4 linked regions of the Homo sapiens genome follow. The protein of the gene in region 2 interacts with the protein of the main gene of each other region in a pairwise test. Each region holds a gene or a part of one and is shown on either strand. Other genes may lie near its edges. The genes, in order: THSD7A, ELOVL5, GOSR2 and NINJ2.

Region 1 (7,541 bases), on a different chromosome or scaffold from region 2:
TATACATAAATTTTCCACTGTGCATGTAGGTCAGGACCCCTAATCTGTGCATTGTTCAAGGGTCAACTTTATATACCCTTATTTGTTGTATATATGTATTTATGTGTGTATTTATAATATATGTATCTGACATATGCATTCATATATATGAAGCCCTTTAGGGGTTAAAAAGGCCCTTAGATATCATTTTATCTATTTAATGAGTATTACAAAATAGGAAGCCAAGAACCAAAGTCATTAATGACTTTACCAAAGTTCTACAGCATGTTAGTAACATACACAGTTTGAGTTCCTGTCCCAGATCTTCATCCAGTGTAACAACTTTCACTACATCATTTTAATTCAATAATCTCACCATTAATATGATTCTCTATAATCCTCTGTACCAAGACCAAGCTTACCCCATTGGAACAGATATTTTGGAGTATGTCACCTCTTTTCTCTTCCAATTCCCTTCTTGCCTCTTTATTTTCATCAAGTGATACACACATAGTGATTCTGTAACTTCTAAATTTTCATTTATGGTATATCTTTTTTCTTTAAATATTCTCTAGTTCTTTTGAGAACTACGTTCAACTCCTTTACAGATATATTAAAGTCTCCTTTCCCTTTGGTAAAAAAAAAAAAATAAAGAAGTCATTATTTTGCTTTCCAATTGAATGAACTATTTTTTTTTTTTACCAAACCAAGGATCACCAGTCAAGAAATATCTTTAACATCCTCATCACACTAGCTTACATTTGCATACAGCTTTGAAGTTTACCAATCACTTTCTCATAACTCATGTGATTTTCACACACTGCAGATAGGCAGAAGAAGGTGTCATCACATTTACATGCAGTTGAGAAAACTAAGGGTCAAAATTTAAGTGAACTGCCAAAATTCCTACAGCTAGCAAGAGCTAGGACTGGCACTGGAATCAAGGTCTCCATATCATTGTTTCTGAGAGCTTCCCACTATTTTAAACTGTTTATTGGCTTGTGTTCCTACCATGACATTTATGATGACATATATTGACACCTCAGATGCTGTACAGTGAATGTTGGCTGGGCTCTTTTCCATCTGAATTATTGCTTGGCTCTTGTTACTTTGCTAGTATAAATTTCAACTAGGCAACTACTATTTCATCCTACACTGACTTACCTAAGAAGCTCTCCCCAAGCATCCATATGATACCATTTAATGGTAAATTATAATTTGATTAATGTTTGTCATTATGAATGTGCTTTTAACAAGTAAAACCCTAGCTTACGCTAAATTAGAGATCTTCAAATCTTCGTTTCAAATTGAAGTAAATTAATTTTATTTCATTTGAATTCATTACTCAACTGATCTTCAAACTTAAGGTGTTAGCAAGAATAATCTTGCTTTTTAAAATGTGTATATGTTTCATGTAATCTTCTAAGACAAATTGTGTACTTTGACTTTAAATAAATTTCTGTTTAATCTCCTCACTAAATTTCTGGATAGCTGCAACTTCTTTAAAAATTCCAGATATCGATAGTGATGCAATTGTAGAGTAGACTGAGCTGTCTCTTCAGTAGTGGTGCAGAGATGGGCTGAAGCAGGAAAAGACACTCACTCCCTGAAACCTGTTTGCAACCCCATGACGAATACATACTTTCCCTTTCAACTACAACATTCTCTTAATGTTTGGCATGACCAAGTTATTCTTAAATTACCCCCTAGCTCTAAGCAACAGGAATAATCTTTTCCCATTTTATTCCTATGAACATGTGAAGTTTCAGGTCCCCTAAGGAATTCTCAATGTTTTTTTAATGCAGAGAGAAAGCGAACCCGCAGAAAAGGGGTTGGTAATTCCTCACTCCGTATTGTTTTCCTGCCTGTCACGGCCCCCGCCAGAAACTCCAAGCATTTTGCCAATGGGTAATGATGGGCAGTTAGTAGCTGCTTTTGTTGGGTGGTTGAAAAACAAAGCAAAACAATTCTCAAGGAAGGAAGAGAAAGTTTGAACCCAGACATCCTAAAAGTTGTACACTTTAAAAATCCTCCGACTCGCTAGTTAATAATTGAGTTTTCAGTCTTTCCCTGAAGGCTCACTGGAGCCCCATTTGCCTTTAATTGTTGGAACCGCCCTCACTTGGCTTGTTTCTGAGGTGTCCCACATATCACAAAGCTAAAGTTAACAAATTCAACTCTATATCCACAAATGTCATGACAGTGAGCATATTGCTTTGCCTAAAGAATAAAGACTGAGACTAAACTCTTTGCTTGTTCTTTGCTAGAAATCTGTTTGAGAAACTCCTAGTAGAATGAAAATCCAGGGGTTAAAAATAATGCACTTCATCATGGAAGTGCGCGTTGCCCTCATTACAGAGCTGCGAGAGAAATATTCCAGCTACTCACTGTTGCCTCTTAGTTGTTATGCTTTTCTTTCCTAATTGCATCGGACATGACCTATTTGCTTCCTAAGAAATCATACTTTTTACCTTAGGATACCAGCATAACCAAGCCATCCAAAAGCACCGGGGTCCCTACAGAAGCCCACCAGCTCCTTAATGTGGCCCCAGATGTGAAGATGGGGAAAGGGTAACTCCGTCCCACTTACCAGTCTTCCACAGATAGAGGGTGGGCGCCTCCGCCTCGCCCTGCGCCGCAGCCCTGCCGGCGCCCGGGCGTAGCAGCAGCAGCAGGAGCAGCGGCAGCGGCAGCGGCAGCGGCAGCAGCTGCAGGACGCCCCGGCGCGGCCCCGCAGCGCCCCGGCTCCCGGACGCCCAGCGCCTGGCTTGCAGCCCCATGCCGCCTGCAGCCACTCCAGGGTCCAGAGCCGTAGCACGCTCGGCAGGGAATTTTTCTCCGCTCTTGGAACGTCTTTTCAAAGAGTACAGAAAGCAAAGCTCTTTCCTGCTATTGTTCGCTTCAGATGAGAAGGAGGGAGAGCGCGTCTAACACCAGGGAACAATAGCGTCCGCGGTGGTGGCCGTGGCCGCTGCCGCCGCCGCCGCCGCCTCTGGCGGGGATGCTGCTGCCGCTGCCATTCCTCGCAGAATGGCAGGTCCCGGCGGCTCCGGAGGCAACTGTCCTCAGGGGGCCCCAGCTGACTGAGCAGGTCTGCTAGGTCTGGGAGGCAGCGCAGCCCCCGCCAGCTGGAGGGGGAGGAGGGGGGCGTGAGCCCAAAGGAGCAGAGGGGGCTGGAGGCAGAGGGAGGCGAGAGCGCGAGGGCGAGAAAGGGGGCGAGCAAAGGGGAGAGGGGCCAGCCAGGCGACACCCACCTCCGACATACCCGCCTAAAGAACTCCGGTGCACATGGTGCGATGAAATATGTTTGGAAGGATGCACCAATAAAAAGAATCATCACCCGGCAGATTTCAGAATGACAAATAACAGGCATTGATATTCACTGTCATCCAAGGAGTCAAATGCTAGATCTAGTGGCATGCTATTCTTAGTACGTATTTACACAAAGCATCAGTGTTTATTATCTATTTTTAAGCCATGGCTTCTGAATTACTTTGTGTGGGGAGCAGTATTTGAGATCAGGTGTGAAAACACGAGAGCAGAAATGTTGACTTGTCAAAATGCACTTAAACCCTTCTTTAAATGTTGTTTTTAACTTAATCTATTATCAATAAAAATATGAGCAATATTGATGCTCTGTGACAAATTAAATTGTCTTTTAATAGCCTTTAAAACTGAATTAGTGTTAATGAGTATTTGCAATGCTACCTAATTACATAAATACAATTGTACAAAAAAAAAACCCTTAAAATTAAAATTATATTTCAGGTATAGAGTTCTGTCCCTTCATCTACTTCTTTCCCTCAAAAATATGCTACTTCTAAGTATTCAGATAGTTGTGAGTCAAACTGAGTCAGTAATGCTGTCTGGATATCTTGGAATTAGTAAATTCTTCATTTAAAATTTCCCTGACACCGATTTTTCTTAACTCTTACTGTAGCAAAATGCCTGTCGCAATCTAAATAAGGAACCACATGTGTTTGCATCTTTTGTCCTTTGTGTTTTCACTTTCTTCTACCAGTAGTAATAGAAGAATGTGTGTGAAGTCGGATAATGCTTTCCCCTTTCTCCTTCTCCCTTTAGCTAATAATAATATATTTTATTATTAATTCATTTCACAGTAAAGCTAAAATAGTAGGCATTTAACCATTAAAAATTCAGCAAACGGAAAGCCAAAGAAAACTACTATCCCATCAGCAATTTTCAGCCAAATAAAATAAAATTTTAAAAGCAGGAAAACTACTTTTTATGAATTTACTCCAACATAGCTACCCTAGAGTTTAAGATGAGGAAGCTACTCTTTCTGAAAGAGGAAACCTTCCATAAGGCTCCCTTGGGACCCTTGTCATTTTGCAAAGCCTTCCAGACACAGCCCCTCTGCATGCATTAGATTAAAAGCGGGTTTGATCAAATAATTCCCAGGTCCTGCCTGTTTAAGTATTCTGACATCAGAGGAAATTAGCTACGTTGAAGGTTGCAAATTTGGTCTTTGTTTACTTTCCGCTCTGTTAGGCCTCTAAGAAGGAATTAAAAGCTCAGAGAGCCCGAGCGCTGTGAGTCTGTGATTAGGAGAGATAAGCTAGTGTGGCTTACTATTTCTTCACTCGTGAAAAACAGGCAACAATCAAAAGATTATAGGTTGATAAGGAATAAAAAGGAAGCCTGATCTTAACTAATGTATGGTTCCCTGAAGGATCACTTCTTTTGACAGTTACACCACAGAAGGAAATGGGACCTGCTATTGCTTCCTGGGTTCTGTCGTTTCAGGAAAATTTCCATGTCCACTCCACAAGGAATCATTTTCCCATCCTTTCTGCTTGTATTTCTCAGCTACTGTTAGTGCCCTAAACCTTGAAATCCTCTAACTCTGGCACAGGAAGTATTTCAAACTGGACATACTCTGCTAACAGCAGCCATTCTACGCATTCGTGGGAAGCGCCAATCAATTCACCAAGTGGGAATTCATTATATAACAGAGGACAGAGAGTCTGAGGAATTAAGTTAATGTGCAAGGTCATTTACCTAGCCCTTCAAAAAGCCATCCGACACTATACTTAATAGCTTATTGTCAAAAGAAATTTTAAGATTCTGACCTTTATATTTACCCATGGTGGTATAATAATAACTCAACTTGTCAAGAGTGTAAACATCATAGCTACAAATTCAAGCATTATACGGGGTCAATTTCTAGGTTCCAATTTGCTGCCATTTACAATACACAATTATGGTGATATGTTCTGCAGTACTGTTTCAAAATAGCCAACATTTGGTTTCCTTCTTTCAATTTCAACGTACACAAGGCCTAGGAGTCACACACACACATGCACATACACAAACACACACAATCATCAGCAAAGATATCTCTGAACAAGGTTAGAGAATCCAAGTCATATAAACATTTGTCTCCACACCTGCCACACATTTGTTCATAACAATGTCATTATTGCACTTGAGGACAAAAATGTATGGGTCTCTGAGGAGACAAAAGTGATGTATATATCCTGATATGTGTTCCTTTGTGAAAGGTATAGTGTCTAGGTAGATAAATCCTATCAATAAAACTGATAGATGGCAAGAGATAGCAAGACATAGCAATATTTGTTTCCTAGAATATGACATAAATAATAATACACAAATGTTTAATGACATGATGTCAAAATTTAGTCATGAGAAGTCTCAAGGATGCAGATTAAATTGACCATCTGTACAGCCTGCCATGAAGTAAATCGTTCGTCATTTTTCATGGAGAACTGTTCAAATATTAATGAGCCAGTGCGATAAAAGTTCTCCAAACCAATGAATGACAAATGCAAAGCATATTTTTTTAATATTTAGAAATGAAAAAATTCTAAACTTATCACCTCTCATGTGATAGGTGTCTTTATTCTGCCTCTATTAATTTTGCTATCATTTCTAAACTCCAGAGGTAAGGATGTGAACATACCTATACACATCTGTTTTCTCTTTTATTAGAACATAAACATATAAATATATATTACAACTCATGAGACTCATGACAATGACTTTTAGTCATTAGTATCAATATTTTAAAACAATTATGAAATATTCAGTTCCTTGATGGAAAGGGAAACAACTTTTAACATCAACAGTTTTATAATTATAAAAAAGTGAAGAAATATAGTTATTTATTGATAGTATTACATATGGAAATATCTAAAGATGTCCATTTTGAAATAAAAACTTAAAAATAATTCTCCACATAAATGCATTTTGCATCCTAAAAAATAAAAAATACCCAAAGGAATTCTATTTGTGCAACCTCTAGGTGTCACACTTGACCAAGATTTGGATGAGACAAAATTTATTTTGGGCTTCTTTCTATCCTCCCCTTCCCTTGACACCCACCCACCAAGTTTATAGGTACACCTCATTTTACTGTGCTTTACACATATTTTTGTTTGTTTGTTTGTTTAACAAATTTAAGGCTTGTGACAACTTGGCATTGAGCAAGTCTATCAACATAATTTTTCCCACATGAAGTGCTCACTTCATGTCTCTATCACATTTTGGTAATTTTCATAATTTTTCAAATGTTGTCACTATTATTCTATCTGTTATGGTGATCTGTGATCTGTGATCTTTGATGTTACTGTTGTAATTATTTTGGGGCACCACATACTGTGCCCATATAAAATAGCAAACTAAATTAATGAATGTTGTTGTGTATTCTGACTTCTCCACCAACAGGCTGTTTCCCTATCTCTCTCTCGTTGGGCCTCCCTTTTCCCTGAGACATATGAATATTGAAATTAGGCTAATTAATAACCCTACAATGGCTTTTAAGCGTTCAAGTGAAAAGAAGAATTACAAGTCTCTCATTTTCAATCAAAAGCCTAAAATTATTAAGCTTATTAGGGAAGGCATATCAAAAGCCAAGATAGGCCAAAAGCTAGGCCTCTTGCACCAGTTAGCCAAGTTGTGAATGCAAAGGAAAGTTCTTGAAGAAAATTAAAAGTACTACTTTAGCAAATACACATATGAAAGGAAGCAAAACAGCCTTATTGCTGATATGGAGAAAGCTTTAGTGATCTAGATAGAAGATCAAATCAGCCACAACATTCCTTTAAACCAAAGCCTAATCCAGAGAAAGGCCCCAATTCTATTTAAACCTGTAAAGACCAAATGACATGAGGAAGCTGCAGAAAAGTGTGAAGCTGGCAGAGACTGTTTCATAAGGTTTAAGGAAAGAAGCCATGTTCACAACAAAATTGCAAGGTGAAGCAGCTGTAGCAAGCTACTCAGAAGATGTAGCTAAGATCACTGATGAAAGTAGCCACATTAAACAATTTTCAACATAAACAGATGAAAGTACCTACATTAAACAATCAATTTTCAACATAAATGAAAAAAGCCTTCTATTAGAGGAATATGCCATCTAAAATTTTAATAGCTAGAGAGGAGAAGTCAATGCTTGGCTTTAAAATTTCAAAGGACAGGTTGACTCTCTTGTTAGGGTCTAATTCAGCTGGTGATTTTAAGTTGAAGCCAATGCTTACTTACCATTCTGAAAATCCTAGGGCCCTCCAGAATGTACTAAATCT
Region 2 (7,029 bases):
TCTTATCCCTACTTATATAATCTGTATACGTTTTCTAGGGGTTTTGAATTGATGAAAGAAGTCCTACATGAATCACACTATTGTAGGCCAGACTAGTTACAGCAGCTGTTAACGAGCATTGGGGCACAACTCATATTGTGCTTACAATCAGATGACGTGGTTTGGAGGGTTTCAATTCTTTGACTTCAATCCTTCCGCAGCTTCCTTGGCTTCACATTGTTTTCCAGGGGTGAAAAGCTGTTGGTGTGTCCATTCACAGCAGCCATGGACCCATTCTGGTGGTCCTTCAGGTGGTCTTTCCTTCGGGAGGCCCCTTTCTTGTTGTAGGTCTAAAATGTGTAAGGGCAGATGAGAACCAAATGACCACAGTTTTCTTTATAGGGAACTTTACTGAGAATTGCATCCCTAACACTAGGCCTAGTTTCAAGATCAAATCTTATCAAGGAGAAACTCCTGAGGTCAAGTCCTCATTGACTAAATCTTTTGTCACTGGTTTCAATCATTCTTCCTTTTTTTTTTTGAGGCTTAGCCTGAGGTAAGTTAACTGAATCACAGGCTGCAACAGAAATACTATTTAAAATGTCACATAGAAAATTCAATTTACACTTTGCTTTGCCTTTTAGTATCTGGATGGCAGATGACAGGGGTTATGTGGCCAAATTGGTCTTTCCCACCTGGCAGCAGCTCTCTTGACACCCACATCCCTTGTTCGTCTTCAAAAGTTCCTCACTGCCTCGGCGACTATCTCAGCCTTCATGAACAAAGTGCTATGCTGCTATAAGTAGTTAGAATAAATGTGATTTCAGCTTCATCGGGTCCTATCCTTTCACCTTCCTTGTAGCTGGTGTATGTCCCACAGTGCAGCCATAAACTATGAAGCCCAGAAGTATATGACTTCCACTGAAACTCAACATGCCACACACAGGTGCTTGTGGGCACAGAAGAAGAAAGGACAAATGTCTGAGCCTCGGGACTTGCAGCCTCTGCCCTTGCTCCTGACCTCCGTGTTTTGCCCAGATCAGCAGGCCTTATGGCTACCAGGCACTGGCAACAAAGGCAGGACACATGTCATCTGGGGGGTGACGCATGGCAGGAGAATCAGCAGTGGCTGCAACGTGGTCAGGCTCCACTGGAAATTATCTGCCCTAAATGGATCTTTCTGTGAGCAAAGACCTACATCACCACATCATATGCTTAGGAATGAACCGAATCCTCACACCTGAAGACTGAATGTATAAGAAAGCTGGGACAAAAAAGCAGATCTCCATATCTGAGGACTGTGATAAAAATCTCTTCTGAAATTTCATTTGGCCATGACGTTCAGGGTAGTGAACTGAGAGATTTCTGATTGAAATCACCTCTCACGTCTCTGCTGCAGGTCAGAGGGAAGCAACATAGGGTCCTGCTGCACAGTTTTCCATTTCCCAGGGGAATCCCAAGACTTCCTCACCCAGGCTCTAGAACAGGATTCTAGTGTCTTCCAGTGAGCTGTGAGCCCCCCAGAGGCAGGGGCTGCTCTTGTCATAGTGACTCCATTAGAGGCCAGAGCCTGTCACCCAGCAAGGGCTCCACATGCCCATTAAGTAAATAGATGAGGGCCTTTGTTGGTAAAGGCCCCAGATTCCAAGTCCCAGAGAAGGGTGAGATTTACCTGAATGTAGAAGTTTGTGAAGAGAGCAATCAGGGAAATCATGTATCCAATCTGGAAATACAACCAACCAAGAGGGAATGTGCACGGCCAGATGACCCCGCAGCTGGTCTGGATGATTGTCAGCACAAACTGAAGCTAGGGGAACAGAGGGGATGCAGCTGAACAGGGACAGTGCATGGACGAGGCCCCACACCAGGCAGACTTTTTAACCAGCATCACCTAAATTTCTGAATTAACACTTACTACCCTTGCTGCAGGTACAGCAGTCACTTCATGAACACAACACATACACTATACTTATCCTAAACTCTAGGTGTGTTTGTCTTATATATATTCTTCCTCTGCCCTCCAAGCTATTTAAACTACCTTCTCCAAATTTCAAGGATACACTATAGAGACATCCAAGACTTTTTGTTTTTATTTTTTGAGAAGGAAGAGCAAGTGTGTATGTTGAAAGGGCACTGATAACATCACTGCAGGATGTGCCACCTGGCTGGACATCCTTCCAACTCCTTATCCATGGACGCTTCTGGTTTGGTGAAGGCTGATGAGTAGATTTAAACCTTTACTGGCAAACAACACTAAGTGCATTGATTAATTTTGATGAATAAACCTTGAAACGCATGTGAACTGGTTAGAGAAATGGTGGAAAGATGTTTTAAAAAGGGCTAGGCTCAGGCCGGGCGTGGTGGCTCACGCCTGTAATTCCAGCACTTTGGGAGGCCGAGGCTGGCGGATCACAAGGTCAAGAGATCAACACCATCCTGGCCAAAATGGTGAAACCCTGTCTCTACTAAAAATACAAAAATTAGCTGGGTATGGTGGCACACGCCGGTAGTCCCAGCTACTTGGGAGGCTGAGATAGGAGAATTGCTTGAACCCAGGAGGCAGAGGTTGCAGCGAACCGAGATCGCGCCACTGCACTCCAGCCTGGTGACAGAGCGAGACTCCAGCTCAACCCCTGCCCCTCCCCCCAAAAAAAGGGCTAGGCTCTGCACACTGTATTTCTAGCAGCTCCAATGTTTCTATGTAGAGTTTTTTGTTTTTAATTTTTGAGACAGGGTCTATGTTGCCCAGGGTGGCCTCAAACTCTCAGGTTCAAGAGATCCTTCTACCTCAGCCTCCCGAGTGACCGGGACTCCAAGCCATGACCCACTGTGCCTGGCTGTTTGCCTTCTCTTTTTTAAGGTTAGTACTGCAGACTGAGGAATAACTAGGAGTGGTGCTTAAAATAAATCCTGACAACCTGGGTAGGTTTAATCTTCCACCTCAAAGTACAGAGCCTAACGGGAGACCAACTTTGCCAGTCTGTTCTTTTAAATTCTGCTTCCGCCAGACCCAAAACTGTGGTATAAATCAATTTCTGCATCATTTCTCCTCAAGTATAACAAGGAGGTTAATCAACAATTTTCCTTTTTCACAGGTGGGTGAGAAAAAATTAACAAGGACCATATAGCAGCTGGCAGAGAGGTGAAAATGAAACATCAAACACTTCAGTCTCTAAGATTTTCTCAGACTTTTTTTTCAGATTGTTATTTTTAAATATTGAAAAATCATAATTGACTTGAAGGGATCTGAATCAGCTTGGTGTGTTTAGAAAAATGTGTTAATAATGCAAGGACAGGGCAAAGGGTTTAATGTCCACACCCCTCAGTCAGCTAGCTTTGGCCTATTGACTCAGTGTCATCTATAAAATAGGGACAATAATATGTGTTTTTCTTTTTGGTAGAGACAGGGCCTCACTATGTTCCCCAGGCTGGTCTTAAACTCCTGGCCTCAAGTGATCCTCCTGCCTCGACCTCCCAAAATGCTGTGATTACAGGCGTGAGCCACTGTGCCTGGCTTGGGGACAATAATATGAAATCAGGCTACTGGAACAATCTATGTAAAATCATGTACTTAGTATGAGTACCCAACATGTGCTAAACACTTAGGAAATGTCAGTGTTTAATATGAGCAGTAGTAGTATTAATTAGTTCATAGACGAATTCATGAGAGGAGAGAAAGAGGTTACCTATAATATACTGATGAATGCAGAAGGCTTAATCAAGGATGGTGAGAAGTATCAGGTGAAGTGGCCTGGCCCTGGCAGTAAACCAGGGGAGGAGCTGTTAACTGAAGCAAACAGCTGCCATCCTCACCAACAGGTGCTCCACTGCATGGGGGCTGAGGGGTCATCCATACCTGCCAAACAAATATCCTTGCTGCCTAGTAATGGGCTACACATACCCTGGACTCCATACTACTCTCCAGCTCCTTCTAAAACCCCTGGAAACATACAATTTTCATTTTGGATTTTGGACTATAATTAGAAAACACACACACATATACACACATACATGCATATGTGCTTATGTGCAAAAACTCAGAAGAGCTGAACTTGAAGTTGGCAAATTAGATTCTAGACCTCTTTGTACAATTCAACTAGCTGTATGCCCATGGTCACAGTTCACTATCAGTTCAAAACAAGAAAATTCCCTAATCTACCCACTTCAAGGAATTTAATTACATCAAATGAAAAAGGGTGGAGAAGGGGCATCTTAGATGCTATTACATAACACTAAAGCCAGGAAGAGGTCTGTATCCACCAGGAAGTAAGTCCTGGGGAAAGAGGCCAAGTCACTCACCAGCTGCCCCTGAGTGATGTACTTCTTCCACCAGAGGTATGGACGCATGGAAGGGACTGACGACAAACCATAGTAAGAGTACATGAGGACGTGGATGAAGCTATTAAGTGTGGCACCAAAATAAGCTGCAGGAACAGAGGGATTTGGGAAGGAGAATGTATTAGTGTTTTAAACAGAACAGGTGGTAAAAAAAAAAAAAATACAAGATTCTTTTTGAATCAGAAAGAGAGATGACTTCCAACGGAGCTGACAAACACTGCAACAGCAAGCAATGCATGGATGTGTAATGAGAATTCAATTTCCACTTGGGCAGGCAGCCACCAGGAGGCTCCGAGCCCAGGGGTCAGCTGTAGCTGCTAGAGGGGCATCTGACACTGAAGCCACGACGCCATCCCAGCACCTACAGGCTTTGCTGCAGATGCCCACCCACTCTCAGAGACAGCTGTTTTTCTTTACATGCACAACTGCCCAAATATGCTCTCTGAAGGCTGTGGAAGACAGCTGATGGGCAATATGCTCAAAAATGGTTGTTTCTATACATTTGCTGGGGTGTGGAGAGGTCTCTGAAGCCATCTTCTAATTATTTCCCAGGACTGCAGTGCTGAGGTCATACATTTTTATTAATAATAGAGTCAAGAGTCTAGCTCCTTAGAGATAAAAGAGCCATCTTATCACATCATTTTCAATGTTCAGTAGGACCACTAGTTCTTTTTCCAGACTCTGTCCTCCTCCCCAACAGTCAGCAACCAAACCAAGCCATCTGGCTTTTCCCTGTGCAGTTGCAGGTGCACAGCCTGGTGTTAGGGAAGTTTCTACTCCTGGCTATGATAGGAACTGGCTTTTGACTTTGGACACATCACATCCATTCCCTGGTTCAGTTTCTCATGGCCCAAGTGGAGCTGATTAAATCTGTCCTCCTGAAAGTTCTCTGAAAATTTAAAGCACTCTTCAAATGTAGGGAGGGGCTGTTTCTATTAGAAAGTTAGGTCAGTTAATCCACCATCATGAGCTCTGACAGTGGGAGGAAGAGCAGAAAGCCCCAACTCTACCCACCTTTCTGTGGTCTTAGTTTCCTCCCAAACCCAAAGGATCTGTATTTGGAAAGCTTTTTTTTTTTCCTAGCTCTGGAATTCCATGACACTGTGAATCTTAGCAGGCTCAGGTAATCAAGGGCAGTGCTATCCCAGAGAAAAAAATATCCATAAATAGACCCATAGGTTCTCAGTTAAATTCTTCAGTGTTTGGATGACGGGACTTTTGACTGAGACATTTGCTAAAACTCCCAGGCTGAATCTGAAGGTGGCAATCTCTGAAAATTATAAGAAACTTTGGACTACAAGCTTTCCAAAAACCAAGTACAACCTTAGAAAATTTATATCAAGTTTTGGTGCTCGTTATAGAAGACACCTTGATCACCATGCTTCAGGGAATATGAGGGTTGTTAGAACATGTGGAGACTTCCTAATGCATGACAGCTAAAGCTGTATTTCAAAATGAGCCTTGCTCCCTGGTACTCATGCAACAGTGTGATCCTATTTTCCTCACCTGCCCGTCTCAAACCTTCCACACCATACAGAAGGACCAGAAAGAACCTGGAAAGTTGCCCTCTAAGTCAGAGAATATTGTACCTATTCCTTAATATGTCCCCAGTGGTATCTCCCTCATCTCACCCAATCAGCACAGAAAGTTCACTTAACTAAAAAAGGGTTTTGTGTGCATAGGTACATAAACTATCATTAAAAGCAACTTGAACACAAAGCTGAAAGCCTGACCTAGACATTTACAGAAACAGCACCTTTTCTGAAAGCCTTAGTTTCAACTCTCCTCCCTGCTCACACCTGTTCCCCAAGTCCCCGTCTCTAATACTTACAGTGGCCGCAGGGGACCCAGTTCATCACAAACCACCAGATGTTCAGCATCGAGGCATGGTGGTAGACGTGCAGGACCGTGATCTGGTGGTTGTTCTTGCGCAGGATGAAGAAGAAAGTGTCCATAAATTCTATGAGTTTGGAGAAGTAGTACCACCAGAGGACACGGATAATCTAAGAGGAAAGGGTCAAAGATTTAAGGCTTATCCTCACGGCTTCTCTGGAATATCACCTCTGACATGTTTCACTAATATCCAAAAATCTGATGTCAACTCGGAGAAGCCCGAGTGCCCCAAGAGCTCTTAATGTCCATCAGTGGCTGGGAGCTATGGTCACTCTCCAAGTACCTTTAACCAAAGAACATGATTGGGTTGGGACAGCTGGAGGGGTTTGAAATGACTACAGGGAATATTTTTGAAAGGGTCCCTGACACTCTTTGAGACTAACAAAAACATGAGGCTCAAGGTTCAAAACCTTGAAGTCTGCCTATTCCCTCTGGAAGCAGCCTGCACAGCCATTAGCAAAGGAAAACCATCTGAAAAACGCTATTGATTTCAGGGACTAACATGGAGCAGCCGACCTGATAAGTGACACAGAAGAAAAGGAATCAGAACCTGCAGTGTCAGGTCTCTGCCCAATTAAACATGTCAAACAAGTGCTCTAAGGAGATGACTGCCCATGCTGAGCTGCGACTGTTGGCCTGTGATTTAAAACAAACCTCATGAGTGGAAGTCAGATTTTATTTTTAACACCACTACTCGGAAAAAAGTACTTGGATGAATGATTTTAAAAATTTAAGACATTGCTCTTATGATCCTGATTGTGTAAATATAACATACTGACTGCATGTGATTTTTCCTGCCAATTGTTAACCGGAGTTATT
Region 3 (7,029 bases), on a different chromosome or scaffold from region 2:
TAAGAACTATTACCTTATCTCAAGACCATGTTTTTCCTTTATAGATTTTGCCCTTTAATGAGCGAAATGTAAAGGCAAAGTGAGTGAAATGAAAATGACCAGATTGTTGCCACTACTTTTAAGTAAAGTTAACAACAAACTTACATGATGCTGTGTAGGTTACACAGCGTTTTCATGTTCATCATGGTCAGAGGCAGCCTGGATGCAAAGTGGATGTTATGGGGTGGTGGGGGGCGGTGAGTAGTTTCATGAACTTTTAAAAAGCACTTCCATTAAAAAATTCTTCCTAGATCTTCTGTAAACCTTTTTTAAAGACGGCTACAATGACCCTGGCTTATTTGCTACTATTTCTCTGCTTTGTTATATTATCACCCAAGCCCACCATGGACCCCATGCTAGAGAGGGCTAAGACTTCTTTTTCCTCATGTCCACGCTCCCAAGTCATGCTTGTGTATCACCTGTTTCTTATGGACTTCCAGTGTGTTATGTTGTGTTAGAATTCCCAGTTCAGTTTGAGACAGATTTTGCACTTGGCATATTAGTAGTTCCCACCTTGCCATTCATACTTGCTTTGTTGTTTCATATTTATGTTTTCTTAGCATGAAATGTAGCCGCTGGAATTGTATTATTGGCCACATTGTCTCTGATTGGTTCAAAGCAAATAGAGATTTGATGGGAAAAGTCAGTGGATTATGGGCCTGTACAAAAGTGCTTTGATGAACGTCCTGCCATGTACATCTCCTCAGGGTATGCCAGAACCTCTCTAGGACACATTCCTCAAACTGCTGGGTCATAGCATGGACACATGCTTTATTCTACTAGTTATTGTCAGAAAGCATTTAAAGTGTTTTACCAATTTATAATCCTACCAGCTGGGTATGAGAGTTCTAGTTTCCCTGTTTCCTTATTAATGCATATGTCCCCAAACTTTAAAATATTTGTCAGTTTGATGGGCTGAAGAAATGTGATCTCATTGCTTTTCATTTGTGTTTTCCTAGTTGAGTGTCATTTTGTATATTGATTGACCATTTGGGTTTTCTTTTCTGTCATTTGCCCTTTTTTCATTTAAAAAAAATGCCTTGTTTGACTTTTTGTATTGATTTGTAACAATTCTTTATATATTTTCTGCACGTCAATCCTTTGTTATCTGCTGCAGATACCCTCCAGTCTGTGCCATTCATTTGTTTATTTTGTGGCTTTGGTGTACAGAAGTTTTTTGTTTTCATGTTGTCAGATGTATCCATCTTTTTCTTTGTGGTTTGTGGGTTTTGTGGGGGTGGGTAGTTTTTGGATTTTGTCTTATTTAAGAAATCTTCTGTAACCCGAGGTCATTTATGCACACCTGTATTTTCTTCAGAAAGTTTGAAAGCTGCTCTGCTTTTTCCATTTGGGTTTTAAGTGAGCTTGAGTTTATTTTTATGTGTTACCTGAGGTGGCCTTTTTCTGTACGGGTAACAAACCGGAGCTGTTGGCATTTATTGTAGTCCCTTCTTTCAAAAGCTCCCAAATAACGTGGGGCTGTGTCTAGGCTGTTTCTTTCCTCTTGGGCCAGCTGTAGGGTTTGCCTTTCCTTGTCTGTCTGCACCTGCACTGCCGCCATATTGTTTCCATTGTTACTGCTTTGTAAGTCATAATGGCAGGTGGGACAAGTCATTCCTCCCCCTCCTTCTTCAGAGTGGTCTTGGCTATTCTTTACCTCCCCCCTTTTTATTATGTCACTGTTCGTGTTGATCATATTACCAACTTTCAGATTTTTCTGTTAAATCAGCATTGAAAATTTACCTCACAGCCTGCGTCAGGACTTCCTTAGAGTCCTAATTCTCCTTTCTGTCCCCGTTACCCTCCGGTCCCCTGTACCTGTTCCCTTGGTTGCCCTGCTTCAGGTGTCGGCTACCTCAGGCTGCATTCCTACATCAGCCCCCATACCTCCACACCCCCGCATCATCCCACAATATCCCAGACTTACTTTCCGGAAGCAACGGCCTGGTCTCGGACTCTAGCAGTGATTTCTAGTTGCTTCTCAGGGCCACAGGTCTTGCCTAGGAGCACCCTGGGGAGTCATTTGACAGCTCACCCAGCTTCTTTTGGTGCCCGAGGGCATATCTGGAGGCCATAGGGAAGCCCTGGAAAAGACTGGGCACAAGCTGAAGCCAAAGTTGGGTGCCTGGCTGGCATTGGTAGATTTGGGGTCCTGGTTTGCATTGCTCACGATGCAGAATGGTTGCTGACCTTTCCTCCAGCGTTGGGGATGATGTGAGAGTCCAGCAGGCCCCCTTCATGTGGGCCCTAACTTGGGGAAATCTCCACCGTGAGCACCGGGAAGTGGATGGTGGGGCCAGCATAAGCAGTATCCCGAGGACTGATCATGGAGGACCATTAGGAAGGGGGTCTTAAGGATGACCTTGGCCAGACCGTGGGAAGCCTCCAGAGAGTGTTACCCAGATCCAGGGTACAGTGTTGCATTTCCAAATGAGATGGCAGTTCCTTCGTTCCTTGATATTGTCGGAGAAGGATGTTTACCAAACAGAAGGTCCCTGTCTCAGGGTCTTCCTCTGAATGGTTTCCTCCAGTGAGTCACTTCAGCATCCTCTCCCCCAACCCGATTCCCTTTCAAGCAGCCCACCCTACTTGTAATCCACATGTCTTGAATGAATTTTTGCATATCATTTTCTTCTATCTTCCTTCACCAAATGATGTCTCCCTTCTTCACAGCGATGCTCAGAACTCTTTCCATCCACATAACTTACCTGGTTTCTCTTTCTCAGCCCCACCCCTCTGTCTGCTTGCCTGTGACACCACTGTGCAGAGCTGCCCCTCTTTCTGTTTGTTTATACTTATGTGTATTGCTTTTCTCGTGAATCTTCCCAGGGCTTGTTCATGTCTGTTTAGCCTGTCATTCCTCATTATGTTGTTTCTCAAGGACAAGGATTATATCTCCCTCGCCCTTTGACTCTTCCTGGTACAGGCCAGTGCTTAGCACATTAGGTCGTAGAACAGAAAGTAGGATTGGCCGGGTTCAGTTTGAGGTTTATCACTTGCTGTGTGATCTTGAACAAGTTACATAACCTTTCTGGGCTTCAGTTTTTATAAAATGAGGATGATAATGGTACTTTCCTCATAGGGTTATTGATTTGGCAGAGTATCTTGGATATGGTAAGCACCCATAATCTGCCTATCAGTGTTATTGTTAGTAGTTAAGATATTAGAAACCATGCCAAAACGTGGGACCTAAAGTGCCACATACAAATTTTACAGTTCAGTGATGCTGTCGATTTAAATCAGTTACATGTTGGCATCAGAAAAATTGTCTTTCCTGACTGAAGCGCTGTTGATTACTCCTGTCTCACTCATTTCCTCCCTCTTCCTTTGATAGGCAGGTCCACGAGATCCAGTCTTGCATGGGACGCCTGGAGACGGCAGACAAGCAGTCTGTGCACAGTGAGTAATTAACTGTGGAGACCAGAGTCCTTTCTCTGATGACAGGGTGCTAATGGGCTGGGCTTCCTGACTGCACTCTGCCTTGGGGGCTTAATGATTCAGCGTGGAATGAGTTTTGTTGTTAGGGTGGACAGAAAAACCCTATGGCAAAGTCACTGATTTCCCTGAGTGTGCCCTTTGGAATCCCACAAGTCTTATCCCCCATTACCCCTCCACTCAACCTGACATGGCCCTATGGGAATGGAAGCGCTTGCCTCCATCTATCTTAATCTAATTACCTAGTCCTTAGAGGAATGTACTCCATAAAAATTCAGAGATGTTTAACTGGAATTGGCCATTTCTTCTGAGCTGAGAACTGTGGCTTTTTAGGAGGATTATTCAGAAACGAACAGCAATATTAATTAGTTTAGTTCCCACAGCATGGTTTCTTTTGAGAAGCATGCTGGTTTTTTGTTTTTTTTCATTTTTTTTTTTTTTTTCTATTCTGAGGAAAGGTCCTTTTTCTGAGTTGGTCATATGGACACCACCTGCGGGGGCTGCCTACCCACCCCACTGCTGGGCTCCCTCAGGACCCATTCCTCCTGTTCTCTCATGTCTCCTTTCGCAGCTTCAAAAGCAGCTCTGTTCTTGGTTCTGTGCCCCACCTTGTTCTAATCTCAACTGTCTTTGTTCACTGTGGGCACAAAGGGCTAGGAAGGGGCAGTGTCACTGCTGTCACTTCTTTATGGGGCAAGAAGCAGTCTGGATGCTTTCTTTTGTGCACAGTTTAGCTTCTTTGTTCATCGGACTTTGTTTGCCTTCTCAGCAATCTCATTGTTACATGATTAGAAATGGAAAGAGGTCATTTTGACTGTCTTATCGAAAGGGATAGGGAAAATGACCGTATTTATCGTATCTCTTTACCTCTGTGGATTCTTTCCTGGGCCTTTCCTATTGATATTTGGTTTATTTTGGGGACGTCAACATTGCTCAGCCCACCCATTCTTACAGAAAGCTTTAAGGGAAGAAAGCCTTAAGGGAACTCTTCTCTGTATGTTTCACATACTAATCTTCCCCTTCCTTTATGCTTTTTTTTTTTTAAATAAAAAAAAAAAAACTCATTACTATAGGGAATTCAATTGGCAGCCTTTTTCTAGGTATTTATAATCCACGTCTGAGAATCCCAAAGGAAAAGAGACCTATATCAGAAAATTTAGCTTAAAGTATTTATTTGGACAACCTTTGCATGTTTATTTTCTAAAGGTAGGAAATTTATTTCTACAGATTTACCTTCAGCTTTTTTAAAAAATTGGCATTGTTATGTCATTAACAGCTATATACATGTACTTTTTTCAAAACAACATTTACGGCCTAACTTGAATTTTTTCTGTTATTCATTAGTGTATACATTTTTCTCCTTTTGAAATATGTAGTTCTAGTTTATTGGATATTGAAAAAAAAATCTGTGATTTATCATTGTAATTTAAGTTCACTATCTCTTTTCCAGCAATTATTCTTTTTTCTTTTTTGTACAGTAGTAGAAAACGAAATCCAAGCAAGCATAGACCAGATATTCAGCCGTCTAGAACGTCTGGAGATTTTGTCCAGCAAGGAGCCCCCTAACAAAAGGCAAAATGCCAGACTGTAAGTGCTGACCTCTGACATGGCTCTGATACTCCAGGCCCATCAAGACAGGCTTTTCTCCCTGGGGGAGGTGATAGAATATTCTGAAAACCAACGTACATGTTGAAAAACTATGACTATGCAAAGAAAAAGCCCCCTCAAAGGGCACAATTCTATCTGAGTGATGCCGCTCAAAATAAATAGCCTGTGAGGTTTGTGACTCAGAAACCTTGTGACCCCTTACCTCTTTGGTGTCATTTTGAAATTTTGCCTCCAGTTCTGTTTTTTGACTAGATCCATAGCCACCTGAAGCCTAATGTTGCCATGGAGTTTTGTTCTGCTCTTTGGTTCCTGCTGGGTTCTTCTTGGGTTGAAATGAAAAATCACTTCAATCAGTCCACCCATAATGAAATGCTGATCTAATGTTTGATACTCCAGCATGAAATTAAAATGAAACCACCCTTGCCACCTCCACCCCCAGCGCCTGTTTCCAAAAGTTTTATGAAACTTTGTGGATGCTTTACCTCAAAGATGCCCTTGGGCTTCTTCCAGGAGAGCCATATAATCCATAGAAGGTCAAGAAGAGGTCAGTGAGCCTGCTTCCTGTCCCCTGTTCTCTGTCATGCATCCAGAATCAGAGCAACAGATTCTGAAGTCAAGCTGCTGGAATCTTGTGTGCTACCATCTCACTTTAACCACAAGTTTCTTCTTGACTTTCAACATCGTTGATCAAAATTAGATCTTGTGGTGAGGGGGTATAGTGTGGGGTGGTGTAGGGAGAAGTAAGGAAACGCCGTCTTTCCTCAGTACAAAGCCTGGCCCCCTCAGATTCTGCTGCCCTGAGTTCCTGGAATTTAATCTCTCTCTCCATCAATTCCAGTCGGGTTGACCAGTTAAAGTATGATGTCCAGCACCTGCAGACTGCGCTCAGAAACTTCCAGCATCGGCGCCATGCAAGGGAGCAGCAGGAGAGACAGCGAGAAGAGCTTCTGTCTCGAACCTTCACCACTAACGTAAGCCAGGCCCGTGGTGAGGGTCGGCCTGCACTTGACAGATCGTGGGGGCTGGAGTTCAGATCTCTGAGCGCCATCTGTTTTGGGGGTGTCTGAAGAAGACTGATGATGAGGAAACCAACTGGAAATGACAGGAACTTTGTGCATTGCCACAGAGACTAGACCTAGACAGAGAATCCCTTTTTCTAAGACAAAAACCTGAAGAGGAAGCAGTTAAATTGAAGGGGAATAGGCAGAGGTGAAAATTACCTGGTTGGGCTGGTCTGAGACAGAAAGGTGGAAGTTCACATGGTGGAAACGTTTTTCTGATCAGATAGAGACAGATGATTAGAACTTAGGCCATTTGTAGAGAAGGCAGCATTTCAAAGCTGCCTGCGGGCAGTTGCCATTGTGCCGAGTATGTGTGTGGCTCCAGTGTCAGGTGCATTAAGATGTTTTTGCCCCTAGTCTGAGCAGCAATTTGGAGGAATTTGTTAACAGATGTTTAGGGTTAGATGGACTGCTTGCCTGAGTCTGTCTGAAAGTGTGTTGGTTTGCATGTTTGATTTTTCAGAACCCATTGTCCCTGCCCTTTAGTCTTAACCAGATCATTTCCTGCACATGGCTGTAGAACATACTGGCCTTTTCTGTGTCCTGCATAATATATTCCACTAAATGAAGTGTGCTTTGGCTTTTTGTATTTTGTTTTTTTACAGAGGATTATTTTCTAAAGAGATGTTAGCTTTCTAAGCCAGTTGTTAAAATTCACATCATTTCCTGCTTTGTAGATGTTTAACCCTCAATGCTGCATCCTTGCTTTGCAATAAATTTTCCCAAGTGTTTCAGGCTGTGCCAACATAGTTTTTGCTTCCCCAGACTAAGCAGTCAAGTTACAGTGTTTAACAGTTCAAAAATTTAATGAACTATAAGACACACTAAAAGATGTTTGGATTTTAGATCGTTATAATGTAGTATTCAGGCCTTTTTTAGGCCAAGG
Region 4 (5,679 bases), on a different chromosome or scaffold from region 2:
CTATGGATACGCTGGGTGGAGAAGGCTAGATATAGGGCCAGAACGGTTTGGTGAGCAGTGGAGAGAAGCCAACGAGTGGCTGCTTCTAAACTGGCAGACCTTCTAAAAATCATTTCTGTTTCTGAGTTGGCAATGCTTTGCTAATGCTTTACAGATTTACCTTCCTCGTTATATTTGGCCCAGGCAAAGATCAAAATGAGTTTGCAGTCCTTAAACACATGCCTAAGGGAAGCTGAGACTGAAAGCCAGAATAGCTTACAGCAGGTTCGTGGAGAAGATTGTGCATATGTGCATCCACCTGCAATGGACTAATCTACAGTTCATGGGGCAGATGACGATAAGCGCAAGACATCTGGGCCAGGAACATTGGCTCCGAGCAGAACCCACAGAGGAGGAAGTAATTTAAAAGCCTTCCCACCCTCCAGGTCTGGGGTTTGCTCTCTTGAGCCCTCTCCAAGGCACAGATGGAGACCAGCCTGGATGCCTGAGCCTGCAGGACTAGACAAGTAAGTGGACTCAAGAGTGGATTTGAAGAAACCTTTATAGATATAGATTCCATTTTACAAGAAGGGAAAATTGAGGCCTGGAGCAGAAGGAAGCAGTGGGGTAGAGTCAGAACCAGCATCCTTAAGCCGGGCAGACTTGGCCTTAGACAGACATGCCTTACTTAGGTCCAGCAGATGCTACCAGGAAGGTATGGCTGGCAGTACCTGCGTCTGAGCTCAGGACTTCAGACCAAGATGGAAGTCCCTTAGACCAATAACATAAAAATCACTTTTTAACTCAGGTGCTGTGGGTAGGGAGCAAGGGCAGCTATACTGTCCTTTCAGAAGCTCTCCTGGGCTGTGGAAAGTGCCCACGAGCCTGGCAGATCACGGAGGAAGGAGGCAGAAGTTCCAGGCCCAGAACCTGTTGAGGAAGCAGAGAAGAGGCAATGAGGATGGCAGGCCAGATCAATGCCCCTCAACCTTCAGCATGCCCAGGATGCACCTGGCCACGTTACTCATGCACGTGCCTGTAGCACGTGCTCGAGCAGAGCCTGAGATTCTGCATTTCCAGCAAGTTCCTGGGTGGTTTGTGGATGCTGCTGACCCATGGACCACAGTCAGTAGCAAGAGCTGCTAGACAATGGCAGGGAGAAATTCCCCATCTCCACCTTTCCTCTTGCCGGAGGGGCAGAGTCAACCACTAATGGCATCGCCTCCACCCTGTCCCAGACCGTGGGAAAACCTGAGCCTGAGAGCAGAGAGCCATTAACACAGCAGTGGGGCTTTGTGCAAGCCTCGCTGAGGCCAGGCTCTTGCAGATCCTCTCCTTGCTCTCGGAGCTACAGGCCTTCCCCCTTTGTTTGGCAAGGGATCTGTTTCTTGCCCCAAAGCCCCAGAGGAGAGAGAAGGGCCACCTGGGGAGTCCCTGGAGCTGGGGTTCCTCCATCCTCCCTCACCTGGGTCCCAGGCTGCATTCAGAGAGGATTCCTTGAGGCCCTGGCAGCCAGGAACCCTGTTTTATGTGCCCCGAAGGCTGTAATGAAAACATTGATGACCACAGTGAAGAAGACCAAGATGGTGGCTGCGTTGTTGAGCTGGTTGAGTCGCCACTGCTTTTCTACCTCATTCAGGTTCAGCCGTGCTGCAGGGAAGTGGAGTGGGGGGAAAGGGTCAGAGACGGGGCCACAGCACGGAGCTGCCCCCACAACACCCACCAGAGTTTGGAGAGAGGGGCCCTTCAGAAACCCATGTGGCAGAAATCAAGGGAGGTGGTCGTCATCGGGCTGAGATGCCTCTGCCCTCGCCAACCAGTACAATGGGGCACCCTAGTGTGCTTCATCCCACCAGGATTTGGGAACTTAAGCTGGGTCCTGTAAGCGTGGGGACGAGTGCTCATGGAGAAGCGGTGAGCGAGTGAGTGAGTTAGCAGTTAGCGAGGTGCTGGCGCAGTCATTCAGCAGGTACTGCGGAGGGTCTGCTCCATGGGATACCAGGAGACAGGACAGGGCGCCTGCCCTCGCGGGGTGGAAGTTGGTCTTTGGGCCTCTGTTAGCGGAGGGCTCACTGCAGGTCAGCGTGTGGTTGCAAAGCTGCCTGTGCCAATGCAGGGTGGCCCAGGGGACACGTGGGGCCTTTCTGCCAGCCACGGGTGCCGAGGCAGAAGGTCTGACTGCAGGCTGGGCTCCTCACCAATGACCACGAGCAGGACACCGATGACCACCTGCAGGAGCAGAGAGAGGCTGATGAGGGTGACCAGGGTGGTGTAGTAGTGAGAGGATGGTCCCTGCTCCAGCACCGCCTTCAGCCGCATGGCGTTGGACATGAACAGGGCCACGTCCAGCATGCTCTCCGCCACGCTCTTCTTGGTGGCGTAATGGTTCAGGTTGATGGGCTGGCTCCTGGGGTCGGAGCTTCCAGGCTGTAGGGGAGAAAGCACAGACTTACCAAGGGGAGCTCTGGAAGGGAAGCAGTTGAGAGGTGGGAGAGAGGAGAGAGGTTTTAAAGCTCTTTCCAATCCAGATGGGAAGCTCAGGGCAAATGACACCCTTAGTTTCATGGCCTGATAAAATGAAGGGTTGGACGAGAAAACCCATAAGGACCTCTGCACTCTGAAATGACATTCTGTTGCAGTTGATACTTCCTGGAGAGTCACCCCTTCCCTCACACCTTCACACATCTGGCTGGAGAAAGCCGGGAGGGTTCTCTGCTGCTGGTAAAATGCACCTTCCTCACCCTATTCACTATTTTACCTGGGCCAGGCCTCAGCTTTGGGCTGTGTTCTTTTCCTCTGAGAGGAAAGCACCTGAGAAGACAATAAAAAGAGCTTGGAGGCTTGGGTGAAATAGAGAAAGGCACCTCCTCTCGCATAATGCTGTGGCCCCCAAGGCAGGGTGCACAGCTCAGCAGCTGATCATCGGCTGGATTTCCAACCCTCAGGAGCACTGGAGCTGCCGCCCTGCTCAGGCACACACGCTGTCAGACACAGGCTCTCAGCATACACATGCATGCATGCATGAGTGTATACACACAGTAATGCATACTAGTTAAACACTCACATCATTTTAATTATTACTTTTGGCTAGGATTTATTGAAGCATAATTTACTAAAGCTTCTCCAGAAGCCACTAACTCCAAAAGACAGAATCACAATACAGGGCATATGCTGTGGGCCTCTGGGTTGGGCCAAGAATTTCAGACTGGGCGCCATGACCAAGGGCAATCTGCAGTCACTCAAGAGTACTTGGAAGATTGATTTAGCAGTGGTGCTTGGAACAGACTGGGCCAGGAAGGGCTAGAAGCAGGGAGAGTCATTTAAAAGTTATAGTATTGATTTAGGATCAGGGTGAAAAGGAACTGAAGTGGAGCAAGGTGAGACAGGAAGGAATGGAGGACTCTGAAGGATGCTACGGCCTGGAGGTAGGGAAGATGACCCAGCAGATCACCATGACAGGACAGATACCTGCAGAGTGGGGAGAGACGGATGGATTGAAGGATGCTATGGCCTGGAGGTAGGGAAGATGACCCAGCAGATCACCACGACAGGACAGATACCTGCTGCGTGGGGACAGATGGATGGATAGATGGATGCGTGCCTATATATGCACAGTGATGCATACCAGTTAAACACTCGTAATTTGTTTTTAATTTTTTTGGCTAGGATTTATTGAAGCATAATTTACATTTGATTTTGTTTTGAAGTATAAAATAAAGCTTCATGGATGAAGGGATGGATGGATGGATGGAGAGATTGGTGGGTGGATGGATGGATGCGTGGATGATTGGATAGGCAGGTCTCAGAGGGTCTGGAATGTTCCTTGTACTTCGTGCAGCCCCAGCAAGTCACTTCACTTCTCTGTACCTCAGGGATTTACACAGAGGACAGTTGATTTACACATAGGCTAACTGATTTACCTATCTATCAGAACCTTTGGATTCTATGAGCCCTTAGGATACCCCGAAATGAGGCTGGGTGCAGTGGCTCATGCCCGTAACTCCAGCACTTTGAGAGGCCAAGGCAGGGGGATCATTTGAGGTCAGGAGTTTGAGACTAGCCTGGCCAACATGGCAAAATCCCGTCTCTACTAAAAATACAAAAAAATCAGCTGGGTATGGTGTCACACGCCTGTAATCCCAGCTACTCAGGAGGCTGAGGCAGGAGAATCACTTGAACCAGGAGGCAGAGGTTGCAGTGAGCAGAGATCGCACCATTGCACTCTAGCCTGGGTGGCAGAGTAAGACTCTTGTCTCAAAACAAAAACAAAAACAAAACTCTGAAATGCAGTAGTCTCCAGACTTTCTTGATAGTGTAATCTCAGCATTAAAAACTGTTTTGGCCATGCATCCTCAATATATGTACATTCTTCCATTATCAACTATACATATTTTTATTGGACTAATTATATATATAGTAAAATATGCAAAAGTAGAAACATTTGAAAGGATTACATAAAATTCAATATAAATAGAAGTTTAATTTTCTTATCCTAAAATATGGTCTTGGGCACTCGTCTTTGGAGATCCAGCTCTAATCCACATGCCTGGCTACAGATTGGACCAATCCTCTCCTAGGCCAACAGAAGGGAGCCTCTCTTCCCCAGTCCTTCTCCTAACGTTTGCCTTCAAAACTCAGCCCCACGTCTCCACCCTGCTCTTCTCACTTCCTTTCCAAGCTCCTGGCCCTTTGCTCTGTTTGCCAGGAGGGTGCACACACACAGACACATTCAAGAGGCACAGGGTGGTCATGGGTGCTAACAGCACCTGCTCTGATGGAATCCACCCTGGCAGCCTGTGCCCCGCAGGCTGCCCCTCTCTGACTCTGTGGACCAGTCATTGGAGGATCAAACATATAGGAGTGGCTCTTTCACTCTGACCACACTCCAGGCCATCAGCTTTCTACACGGGGCAGTTCCCTGCACCTGGGTTGTTCATTATTGAGATTCCGAGTGTCCTCAACTTCTGGACGGGGCAGGACTCACAGAGGGTAATCAGGAGTGTGCACTTTGGCCAGTGGAGCAATTTAAACACTTTCTCTGGGAGAGTAGAATGGAGACCAGCGGGTAGCATTCATTCAATAGATTGACTGTACATGCCAGGCGGTGCTTGGGGCTGTGAGGACACCCCCCCCCCCCCGCCCCCCGGGTAAGCACTGGGCCACAGGCTGCTCACAACAGGCCCTGGCAAACTCCTTTTGACAGCCACCAAAATCAGGCTGGGGCCCAGGGCCCACAGAAATAAGAAAAAAGGCCATAGGCACGAAAGGAATGGAGTGCTCACTATCTCTCCCATCTTCCTTCGTGTTTGATTTTGCTGGGGCCGGGGTTTCAGCTGGTGCTGGGGGCAGCCAGTGAGGTTGGAGGAGGTAGGGATGGAGGGTAAATGAGGACCTGCATGGACTTGGGAGGCCACACACGGCGTTCAGGGCCTTTGGAAATCCAGTTCAAGCAAGGCTGGCTTGTCTAGGGCCAGCTGGCATGGTTGGTTAGGGCCAGGGATCCCAGGGCCAACACTTCACAAAGGCCCATGGTCGCCGTCAGCCCCAAGGCTGCAACCTGTGGTCTTAGCCCATTTGGTGAAGGTTTGTCCTCGGTCTCCAAGAGCACTCATTAGGCAAGAGAGTCTCACCCCCTGCACCCAAATTCAAAGTGTCTCTGCCCAGGTTCAACTGTGCCCCCTGGCCTCCCTGCCCCATGGC

Evidence for each region.
Region 1: the proteins of ELOVL5 (region 2) and THSD7A interact in binary tests that used the Homo sapiens proteins (3 or more experiments, as listed by UniProt).
Region 3: the proteins of ELOVL5 (region 2) and GOSR2 interact in binary tests that used the Homo sapiens proteins (3 or more experiments, as listed by UniProt).
Region 4: the proteins of ELOVL5 (region 2) and NINJ2 interact in binary tests that used the Homo sapiens proteins (3 or more experiments, as listed by UniProt).

Annotation. Positions count from the first base shown.
Region 1 is NC_000007.14:11,829,188-11,836,728, forward strand, and holds the start of THSD7A (thrombospondin type-1 domain-containing protein 7A precursor), read right to left. Parts: upstream 3,012-7,541; 5' UTR 2,760-3,011; coding exon 2,570-2,759; intron 1-2,569.
Region 2 is NC_000006.12:53,268,942-53,275,970, forward strand, and holds part of ELOVL5 (very long chain fatty acid elongase 5), read right to left. Parts: intron 6,321-7,029; coding exon 6,149-6,320; intron 4,404-6,148; coding exon 4,279-4,403; intron 1,787-4,278; coding exon 1,652-1,786; intron 330-1,651; coding exon 186-329; coding exon of another isoform or gene 172-185; 3' UTR 1-171. UniProt on the Homo sapiens protein: Catalyzes the first and rate-limiting reaction of the four reactions that constitute the long-chain fatty acids elongation cycle.
Region 3 is NC_000017.11:46,926,147-46,933,175, forward strand, and holds part of GOSR2 (Golgi SNAP receptor complex member 2), read left to right. Parts: intron 1-3,373; coding exon 3,374-3,438; intron 3,439-4,952; coding exon 4,953-5,061; intron 5,062-5,920; coding exon 5,921-6,053; intron 6,054-7,029. UniProt on the Homo sapiens protein: Involved in transport of proteins from the cis/medial-Golgi to the trans-Golgi network.
Region 4 is NC_000012.12:563,773-569,451, forward strand, and holds the end of NINJ2 (ninjurin-2), read right to left. Parts: intron 2,407-5,679; coding exon 2,178-2,406; exon of another isoform or gene 1,833-2,177; intron 1,630-1,832; coding exon 1,463-1,629; 3' UTR 1,445-1,462; intron 910-1,444; 3' UTR 524-909; downstream 1-523. UniProt on the Homo sapiens protein: Its role in unclear. In contrast to NINJ1 paralog, does not mediate plasma membrane rupture (cytolysis) downstream of necroptotic and pyroptotic programmed cell death.